Linked DNA regions of Homo sapiens: regions 1, 3 and 4 are each linked to region 2. Evidence: fine-mapped expression QTL. A gene starts in region 2. Each other region holds a variant in brackets. All regions are shown on one strand. Distances are from middle to middle. Region 1 overlaps GYS2 (glycogen synthase 2). Region 2 holds the start of RECQL (RecQ like helicase). Region 3 overlaps RECQL (RecQ like helicase). Region 4 overlaps PYROXD1 (pyridine nucleotide-disulphide oxidoreductase domain 1).

Region 1 (2,500 bases), 59 kb before region 2:
ATGCCTTCAGTAGCTTTCCCTAATAAAATGTCAGGCCCTAGAGGGCCGAGGCTGCATACTAGACGGTAAAGTGCCCCACACTCTGGAGCTAGTCAGTCATTTCCAGAACACATAAACCTTCATAGAGGTTCATGATTTTAAGTGAGTTTATGCTTTCATTCTTACAGCTTCTTAACAAGTCATTTCCTTTTGAGAGATGCTAAGCCAGCAGTTTAAATGTCAGCTTTGGCACTAACCTGTTATAGGACTCAGAGAAAATATTTAACCTCTCATTCCTTTCTTTTGACATTAATAAAATGAGGAGAGAAATGCCTATTGTACATGATTATTAGTAGTATATTTAAAGCACCCAGCACAGTGTCTGCTATCCCAAAAGTGCTCGTCATGTGCTTGTTTCTTTGCTTTAGGGCTAAAAACCAAAATACAACATCATGAGAATCAAGACATTTAGCGGAAAAGTAAAAATAATCTATCTGTCATCAATCAACATGAATAAGCAAAAAAATTGAAATATTATTTTAGCTTTTACCAAAGCTTAAATCTTCATTAAACTTCCAATCTGAAATTTTAAAGAACTAATTTTGGTCTTGTAATATTAGCTCTCATTCATGCTATTTTTTTAACCACAGAAAAGCACAGTGTCATCAATAGCAATTGTTATCTATTCTAGATGGTCAAAGGCACGAAAATATTTTGTTTGAATTTTCAAATTGTTAACTGACAAATACTGATTGAAAGTCAATTTGTTTATTGGCAAGTACAGACTGAAAATTTAAAATTTATTTTGATTTTAATTAAAATTTCTGAAAAAGTCTCAGGAAGGTGAATATAATCTCTCTGTGAAACATAAATAACTATACCTTTTATCTACTGATATTTTAAAACTCTACTTTTCAATGTTTAAGTTCCATCTATCATACTTTTTAAAAATCTTTGATAGTTGACTCTGTGTTTTCTAATTCCTCATCAGATGCATAAAAGTGACATCACAGTGATGGTGTTTTTCATTATGCCTGCCAAGACAAATAATTTCAACGTGGAAACCCTGAAAGGACAAGCAGTGCGAAAACAGCTGTGGTAATCTCACA[A/T]CCTGTGAATGTTCTCTAGCAATAAATGTGAAAAGATTTCTTTTAAGTGAATGACATCTCATGTATCGCCTTGAACTTTGTTTTTTCCTTAAGATTATTACAGACAAATAATACTTGACTCTCTTTTCATCGTGCTACTATTTTAGGTTATCGTAATGGTTATAACATTATAGGTGTTATACAAATTTTGGAATGAGCTACCATTGAAGGAACAAGGCCCTGTAGAAATCTTTAAAGATGAGTCAAACATTTTTTAACTTTCTATTGTGAAATTCTAAGAACATGTCAAGTAAAAAGCTTAGTAATATGACTCCCTGTATACTCATAGTTCAGATTCAACAATGATCAACGAATTCCCGTCTTGTTACACCTATACCTTCATCTACTCCCCCTCTCTGCTCTCTATCCTGTTCCAATCATCATGAAGCAAAAAAATTTTAAGCTCTTTGTGCTGGCCATGGTGTTCTGTTGCCTCAGCTCTGGAGATGTCAACTTAAGCTGAATTGGCAAGTAGTAAAATAATAGAAGAGACTATAAAAAAGATACCTGTAATTTCAAAGAATGTAATTTCAAAGAATGTCAACAAAACAATAGCATTATCGTGACAAATAAAGATTAAACATTGTCATACTGTTTAAATGATAAATCTTTCTGTTTCAAACAGGGATGTTGCACATTCTGTGAAGGAAAAGTTTGGAAAAAAACTCTATGATGCATTATTAAGGTAGGTGCTTGAAATGCTTTCTACTTCAATCACTTAAGGTTTCACTATTCAAATTTAACAATTTAGACATCATAACTTATTAATTTTGTTCCAAATATCAAGGAATTAATAACCTTTGAAAATGTGTTATGTCATGTGAACAGTATTTTACCCTTCATTTGACAAAACTTGTAAATAGCTGTACAAATAAGAATACATTTATATGCAGGCAAGTTCTAATTCAATGATGAACTCATTAAGGGTTGATATGTCAGTCTGAAGCTGAGAGAGACTTCATGAGATTTTAATTCAAAATATATATTGACAATGTGTATTAAATATGTACTTAAATATTAAGTCTATGTGAACACATTTACTTAATAGAATAATCAACATTATTTATTAAAATACATGAAATATATAATATATAATCTGATGCTTAGGAATCACTGAATTAGTGCCAGCTGTTTTTATTTTTGTTATTAACATTTTTTCCCTGCAGAGGAGAAATTCCTGACCTGAACGATATTTTAGATCGAGATGATCTAACAATTATGAAAAGAGCCATCTTTTCAACTCAGGTAATAAGGAAAAAAGCACCCACTATGTCCCATAGTTATTAAATTCTATCTAATCAGTATTTTAATTTATTGGAATGTGCTAATTTGGAACATTTTCAGACCTGAGGCTAGAAAAGACATTCTTACAT
Region 2 (2,770 bases):
GAGCTTGGGCAGACATAAATACAAAAATTATTAATATTAACAAAAAGCAGTAGGAAAGTGGAAATATTATAATGAAAGAAAAGGAAACCGATATCAATGCTAGCTTTAGAGATGAAATAGGCCTGGAGAACTCTGTGGCAGGCAGAGAGCGATGCTAAAATAATAAAACAAGCCACAAAGCACAATATACAATACTAACGAAATATATCCTTTAATGGCACACAAAGTGGCTTTTCTCTACTGCTTGAAACTTTAGCAGGTAGAAAAGTGAGAATGTTTCAAGAGACTTCTAAAAGGTTGCTTACAGTACTGGCAAAAAGCGAATATTCAAAATGCCACATTTAAGCGTAAGGACATTTTCAAAAAGAGCCTACTGTAGGTGACATTTAAAATACCGCCTCCCAAATAACCAGCCAGCCAGGGACTTGTAGAGGACCCGAAGTGTGTCATGCGCATAAACGATCCCGAGAGTGGGCCGCGGGCACCACGCAAACTTTCTCTTGTGGCAAGCCCCTAGAACAAAGCGCCCATCTCACTGGGGATGAGGAGATCAGCGCGACCCTGGAATGAGACAGACTCTGGGCTAAAGCTCCCCTCCCAACATAGGGCGTCCCACCCTGCCCCACAGACTCTTCTCCCAGGTCAGGTCCGCCAGTCCAAGTCTAGCCCCGGCATCCCGAAGGCAGCCCCTTAGGGTCCCAGCAGCCCTAGCTCTGTCTCGCAGGCCACCGCCCCCAACCCAGAGCTTCATTCATTGACCCCGGCGGAGGGGCGAGACCCAGCCGGGCGATGGGTGTGCGCGGCTCGAGGCGGGGGCCCCGGAGCAGGTGCTTACTCTGCGTGTCCGTTAAGGAGATCATGGCTGCAGTGGTGGGGACAGCGGCGACAGCACCTCGGAAAGCCCAGGGTGGGAAGCTGAGTCGGGAGAAATGAAGCCGGGAAACAGCCCAGGCGAGAGCCGCCACGTCTTCCGGAAACACGCAGCCACCCTCACTGCCGCTTTAAGAGCGCTTCCTATTGGCGAAACCTGCTTCCAATCTCAACCAATAACTCGTAATGTTGTTCGGTGACGCGCATGGTGACCACACCCCTTGACCAATTAGAGAAGGGAGTTATCTGTGATTGGCTGAACGGACCGACCCGGAAGGGTGGATGCTCTCAGCTGGCTGGCGGGAAGATTTTACTCCCGAGTAGCGGAAAGATCTGCTCGAGGCCTGGGTGCTTTGGTGTCGGAGATCCGAGAGTCGGAGATCGGAGAGTCGGACACAGGACAGTCGGACACCGGACAGTCAAACACCGGAGAGTTAGACCGGGCTTCTCGGTGGGGAGAGGCTCTGGGATAACTACTGTTACAGCTTTGAAGGGTCAAGGGTGTGCGCTTTTTGTTTCATCCTTCCCTTTCCTGCTGCAGGGCGAGGCCGGTCTGTAGCGGATCACTTCCTTTCGCCCACACATTGGCGGAGGAGAAACCGGAAAGTTAATCACTGCCCTGCTCTGAGAACTCGGGCCTTTAGGGGCACGTTCGCCTGCTGACCGGTCTTCTGATCTCCCCATTCTTTTCCATGCAGGAGGATTGGCCACCAAAGCCTGTTTATTAGCAGCTGCCATTTGTTGGTAAATACTACTGGGGATGCTTCTTCCACCCCCTGCTTCACAGTAGCGGAAGGGCGGGCGTTATTAATATTAAATTACTATTGCCTCTAAATGCAGGTGGCGGGGAGAGAGAGGATTTAGCCTATGGTATCTCAGTGGCGTTTCCTCCAACATTGATGACTGGCTGTCACCCTGTAACATTCTTCCTGTGGATGCCTAGCTTATACTGCTGAGTGACAGACCTGCTGTAGTTCAATTTCTGGATACATTTTATGTTGAGATATCTTTTGCTGTTAAATCACATCATTTTGGGAAGGAGCAGTCTTTTAACCGCATAATCAAAGGAGTCATTTAAAATCGTGGGGGAGAATTGGATATAGACTGTGTCTTTTCATAAGGGTAGAAACAGCCCCTGCTACCTTAGCAAACCTGAGCCCTCACTACATCAAGGCATTTTCCTGGGCTGTGCGGATACAAAGGTGAAGAGATTGAACCCCAGCCCTGCTAAAGGACCTTACAGTCTATGGAAGGAATGTTACATTTTCATTACGTGAAGAGATGTTTGTATAGATCAAGAATTAGAAATCCTTGGTTTACTCTCCTATTTAGCCTTCTTTTAATGGTGTGGTTATTCCACATTCTTTAGCAAGGCAAAAAAGAGTCAGCCTATCTTTCCGGCCTAGTGGTGGCTTCAGAATTCTGTGTAGAAAGGGCGTAAGGTCAGCAGTCTAAGGATAGGTGTTGCAGAAGTGACTTTTGGAGAGCATCTTAGTTTTAGAAAATGTCCATATTAGAGAGATAGAAGAGGTGTTTTTAGGATTATGGGGAATTTAAAGTTTCTACTCTCCAGCCCCATTTTCCACTTGTCCATATGCATGCTTAGGTTTTAGTCATTCATAGATACTTAGAAATCATTACAAACCATTTTCCCCTCCCCCCACCTCTAACTTAGAAAATCTAGCTTTTCTGTAGAATACCAGTTTCTCTTTTAAGATTGGGCTTATATTGTAATTCTTTAACGCAAGGGCTCAATAAAATGTTAGATGATTAATTTTATTATTTATGTTGATGTATTTTGCTTAATCTGGTACATTTGAATCTATCCAACTTATTTATAAGATTGCCATCCTCCCAGTTTTACAGGTAGGGAAAGAGGCTTGGAGGAACAGCATATGCA
Region 3 (2,500 bases), 25 kb after region 2:
ACTGCAACAAATCACGTTTTGACGGATGCTCAGAAAATTTTGTGCATTGAAAAGTGTTTTACTTTTACAGCTTCTTTTAATAGGCCAAATCTATATTATGAGGTATGTAATTTTTATGTCAATTCCTTACTTTTGTGAAGAATTACGCAGAGGGGATCTGCCTTTTTATTATGTTTATTTACATGAGCAGTTAAGTACTTACAAAAATTTTTAACATTAGGAGGTAATTATAAGTAGATTCTGTGATTAGGGCTTCATTCATGTATCTTTTGCTACATAAACCTTTGTTAGATTAAATGGAAGACACCTGCTAGGTGATACTTTTTATAAAACATATGAGTAAGTCATATATCTTTGTTAAATTTCTGTATGTTCTTTTTTGTATAAAGATGGAGAGAAAGGATGGAGTGATACTAAGGACCCTAATAACATCTCTGTTCAAATTAATTACTAAGTGATAGAAGTATTCATATGCCATTAAAGATTTGCCAATTCTATTTGAATTTTATTTGATAAACTTGAAAATCAAATAACCTAACAGCTGTCTTTTCTTTCTTTCTAAACCCTTTTAAGAATAGATTTAATATTTTTCTGAGTTTTCATTAAAGAGTTATTTATGTTACGGTTTGTTTTTATAAAAGTAGCATCGCAAAATAAAAAAGTCTGCATCCTTGCAAGTTATTCACTGCTCATGTGCTTGCTCTTCTCTGGTAAATTAAAAAAATAAAGATCAAGAAGAGTCTGGGAGGAGGAACAGATGAGTCAGATGGGTTGAATCCTGTGAGTAAGTGAAAGAGTAATAGGAAAAAAAACACTATGGTCATGAAAGAACTGCATCCTGAAAGTTGTACATAGACAGCCACTTGGATGGTACTCATTCATTTACTTTTTAATAAGTTAAGTTTTTTTTAGGTTCGGCAGAAGCCCTCAAACACTGAAGATTTTATTGAGGATATTGTAAAGCTCATTAATGGGAGATACAAAGGGCAATCAGGTAATGTAAAAACAAACCAACTTTGGAGACAGAGATAACTTTCAAAAAGTGACTTCATATCATATTGATAATTATACTGATAACTGAATAACACCAAAAAAAATTAATGTATAGCAGAAGATACTTGAAAATACGTGATAAAATTAATTCACTTGATCTTAGAAATTGGGTGTGACATTTGCTTATGCCATAGATTATGAGTCGTCAAATTGCCTGATTTATTTTTGCTTATTTACACTTGCTTTAGAATAGACCTGATGACTTAATGTTAATTATCAACAGCACATATTTAGTATGTATCCACTGTGTACAAAATAGTGGATTAAGCAACTGATATTCTAAAGGGATAGAAAATATACTCCCTTACAGTAAAGGACACGTTAAAGCAATAAATAAATCCAGTAGTACATACTGAATAGATTAAGCACAGATCGAGTTGTGAGTATATATACATGGTTTTCTGGGTTTAATGACTAAGCAAATGTTACTGAAGCAAAGAATTTGTGTGAAAGTAGCATTTTAAACTGTTCT[A/G]TAGATTTTCAGGAGGTAGTCCTGGGTAAAAGGAGTTCTAGGGTCAAATGAATTTGAGAAAGGTTGCAGGTATTTATTCTGCCTGGATGTTCACAGGGTGTATCAGCAAACTAGAAGCTCTGACCATCCCTGAAAATAAAGAGAGACACCCATTTAACTTTGTTGAATGCAATGTTCTCCAAATTAATTTGCATGCAAATTAATCTAAATTAACCCAAAATTAATCTGGAGAACACTGCATTCATAGCACATTTGTTAGCATCTTACAGACATCAGTTTGAGAAATACTGTTTAGTGGGAGATAAAGTTAAAGAGAGAAAAGAGATAACAGGAACAAAAACTGATGGCTCAGGCTCATTTCTGCTTTAAAGGAAGCTGGTGCTCAAATCTGGAATTATACCAAAATGTCAATATATGCACAAGGCCTTGAAATTTTTCATAATTCTTTTTTTCCTTCTGTGCATTGTATTAATCAATGTCCTGAATGTGTGTGTTGAAAACCATCTTCCAGGAATATGCCATATCTATCTAACAAATGCACATATTTTACTGCAGGAATCATATATTGTTTTTCTCAGAAAGACTCTGAACAAGTTACGGTTAGTTTGCAGAATCTGGGAATTCATGCAGGTGCTTACCATGCCAATTTGGAGCCAGAAGATAAGACCACAGTTCATAGAAAATGGTCAGCCAATGAAATTCAGGTTAGGTCTATATCTTCCATAGAAGCCTAATTTACCTTTAAAATATTTAAACTTGATTTAATTAACTGATAAAATGTTAAAATATTTCAGGTAGTAGTGGCAACTGTTGCATTTGGTATGGGAATTGATAAGCCAGATGTGAGGTTTGTTATCCATCATTCAATGAGTAAATCCATGGAAAATTATTACCAAGAGAGTGGACGTGCAGGTATGTAGGACTCAAATCCAGAAGTAAATTTTTAGAAAGCTTTTCCAAAAAATACATGATAAA
Region 4 (2,500 bases), 47 kb after region 2:
TTCTATATGGTTTTAAAAAAGTTTTGTATGAGAATTAATGAGCTAGGTGCTACACTTACCTTCAGTTGTATATCTGGTTCTTTTATGTGCAATTTTAGCCTCTGATTTTTCAGCAATGAGCTTTGAAGTCAAGAATTCAGCTGCTCCTGCATCGAAGAAAGTATTCCCTATAGCTTTATCTTTAATGGCCCAAATCACTTCACAGCCTTCAATTTCATACCTAAAAACAATGTTAAAGTTACTAAGAGTGATTTCAAAAGTCTAAGTAAAAAATCTTTGCATTTGCAAATAATGATCTCCTGAAGCAAAAGTAGGGAATACATTTTTAAGGCTAACTGGGAAAGATTGATTATAAAGAGGAATATTAACGTTCTTTACAGATGTTAAGAATTAAAAATTGAATAGTAAAAGAATCTGAAGCAGTTTACAGAAAGAACCTTTAAGTGACAAATACATGTACTGAATATCAAGTAAAATTTCATTACAGTGTACATCATTAGAAAATGTTCAATTTCTACAATACACTTATTATATGAATGGCCCCCAGGGGTAAGCAGTGCTTTTTAAAAAATCTGGTTATAGTGTAATCAAGTAATGGATGGATGGCACATAGCTATAATATTGAGAATCAGTCACTTATTTGGTAACAACTTTTTATATCTTCAAAGCACATTACGGAAAGGGATAGAAAATGGAAAGAATCAGAGTTATAAGCTAAAAATCTTAAGGATCAAGATCAAGGATCAAGGATCTTAGAGGAAGGAAAGAATGAAAATGGTATATATAAGCCACCTTCTATTACTATTTACCACTAATGTAAGGTAATGGGCATGTGATATTTTATTCTAGGTTTAGATGCTAAGAAGTGGTTTTCCTAACAATATTCCTTTCACAAAGTCCCTGAAGTCCATTATAATTAAGGTGATCACATAATTTATCACCTAACCTGGGATACTATCTGCTACTAATAATCATTTTTGGTACAACTGGTGGAAATGGAGACAATCCCAGACAAACAAGATATATGGCCATCCTAACTATAATAGGATTTTATCTAAACTTGCGATACTAATAAAATACTGTAAAAAGTTAAGGTATTAATTTTTCACATTTCTTTACGGTACAAAGTATTGTCATCTTTATTTCACAGACTGATATAACATAGGTTACACGACTTTTCAAGACTAATCAATAAACAGATTACGAAAAAAGGTTTAGTACATCTGAATCCAGGTCACTTGATATTCATACTTTTCAACATATGGTGATAAGGAACTCCTTGCTTTACCTAATAAGTCTTCGTTTTTCCAGCTCTTCTATGTCAGTAAACA[TAG/G]AAGATTATTGGGTGAACATTCTATTTTATGTTACTCTGGTCATATAGCATTACTGACCAGCGGAAAGTGGAATACACACAAATTTGGTAATAAAGTTTGTATTTCAATTTACATACAGGCATACAGTTATCATGTAATGCTTTCTTTTTGAAAAACTGGGAATTTCTCTATATTACCATTTTTAAATTTAAAGTAATATTACACTATAACACCTATCAGTGCACTTCAGCATACTGATGACTGACTAGCAGACAAAGTTATTACAAGTAACCACAAGAAACTTCAGTACTTGCTCTACCTCCTAGGACACCTTCTAATCCTCTTTTCCTGACTTGAACTATGTTCTCAGCAAGATGCACAGTTTGACGATTATCATCACACAGAGGGGAAATACTGCTTTCATTTTGAAAATGACTCTACAGAAGCAGACAATGAGATATTACGGTTTTGTGAAGTTATGAAAAACAGTATCTGTTTGAAAAGGAAAGGATTAACTTACACTTAGAAAGGAGAAAACAGATAATAACTGAAATAAATGTATAATGAAGAACATTAGTATTAGTTTCACTGAAACACAGTGTAGAAAGGGTATGGGTATGCCAAGTTTCACGAGAGACAAAGACCTAATCACGCAGCAGACCTCAAGTCAGAGAATAACATTATGTGGGTCCATTTTTAATTACCAAAGAAGAGCTTACTAAATACAAAACTATGAGTTTTATCCAATTATACAGTCTTCAATCTCCAACTTAAAGAAAATGATGAATAGGATTAAATGTAAGACTCTGAACATTTTTGAACATAAAATTTTTAAATGTAAATAACAATTATAATAATAGTAAGTGATACTTTGGTGAGAGCTGATAGAGAAAATCTGGCATGTATATACTATACACAAGGATTTGAAGCCCCATTTACAATAAATCTATACCTCTTCCCTCTTGGCCCACATTTTGGTTTTGACCCTTTCTCTGTATTTCTCCATATAATGCCACAAACTTCATAATAACAATAATGACTGTTACCCATAGTACTCAGGCAATTTAAGAACTCTTACAGGCTTCCACTGGGTGAGATCATCCGCTAAAAGAGGGGCAAAAACCTAGTCTGAGAGTTGGATTGAATGCAAGTGAGCAAAGATATGGCTTTGGCAGAGTCCTTATTTT

What was found. PIP is the estimated chance that this variant, and not a neighbour inherited with it, causes the effect. A credible set is the group of variants that fine-mapping cannot tell apart.
Region 1: its variant is the best candidate, but not a certain one, in a credible set for the expression of RECQL in pancreas (GTEx, PIP 0.53).
Region 3: its variant is the best candidate, but not a certain one, in a credible set for the expression of RECQL in lung (TOPMed, PIP 0.74).
Region 4: its variant is the best candidate, but not a certain one, in a credible set for the expression of RECQL in whole blood (INTERVAL, PIP 0.69).

The regions. Positions count from the first base shown.
Region 1 is chr12:21,558,963-21,561,462 of GRCh38, reverse strand. It overlaps GYS2 (glycogen synthase 2), which reads left to right. Exons shown (of 16, transcript NM_021957.4): 8 at 971-1,077; 9 at 1,753-1,812; 10 at 2,294-2,372. Among named protein-coding and RNA genes, the nearest start is that of SPX, 34 kb to the right of the region's middle. RefSeq lists an enhancer at 2,340-2,500. The variant A/T (reference allele first, on the strand shown) is at 1,089.
Region 2 is chr12:21,500,014-21,502,783 of GRCh38, reverse strand. RECQL (RecQ like helicase) reads left to right here and starts at 1,149. Exons shown (of 15, transcript NM_002907.4): 1 at 1,149-1,614. It overlaps GOLT1B (golgi transport 1B), which reads right to left and starts at 995. Exons shown (of 5, transcript NM_016072.5): 1 at 836-995. The coding sequence starts at 860. RefSeq lists enhancers at 1-637, 638-1,345, 1,296-1,355, 1,496-1,685, 1,726-1,775 and 1 more.
Region 3 is chr12:21,475,405-21,477,904 of GRCh38, reverse strand. It overlaps RECQL (RecQ like helicase), which reads left to right. Exons shown (of 15, transcript NM_002907.4): 7 at 1-102; 8 at 913-994; 9 at 2,081-2,229; 10 at 2,320-2,437. Among named protein-coding and RNA genes, the nearest start is that of RECQL, 25 kb to the left of the region's middle. The variant A/G (reference allele first, on the strand shown) is at 1,526.
Region 4 is chr12:21,452,852-21,455,351 of GRCh38, reverse strand. It overlaps PYROXD1 (pyridine nucleotide-disulphide oxidoreductase domain 1), which reads right to left. Exons shown (of 12, transcript NM_024854.5): 6 at 60-220. Among named protein-coding and RNA genes, the nearest start is that of PYROXD1, 16 kb to the right of the region's middle. The variant TAG/G (reference allele first, on the strand shown) is at 1,332.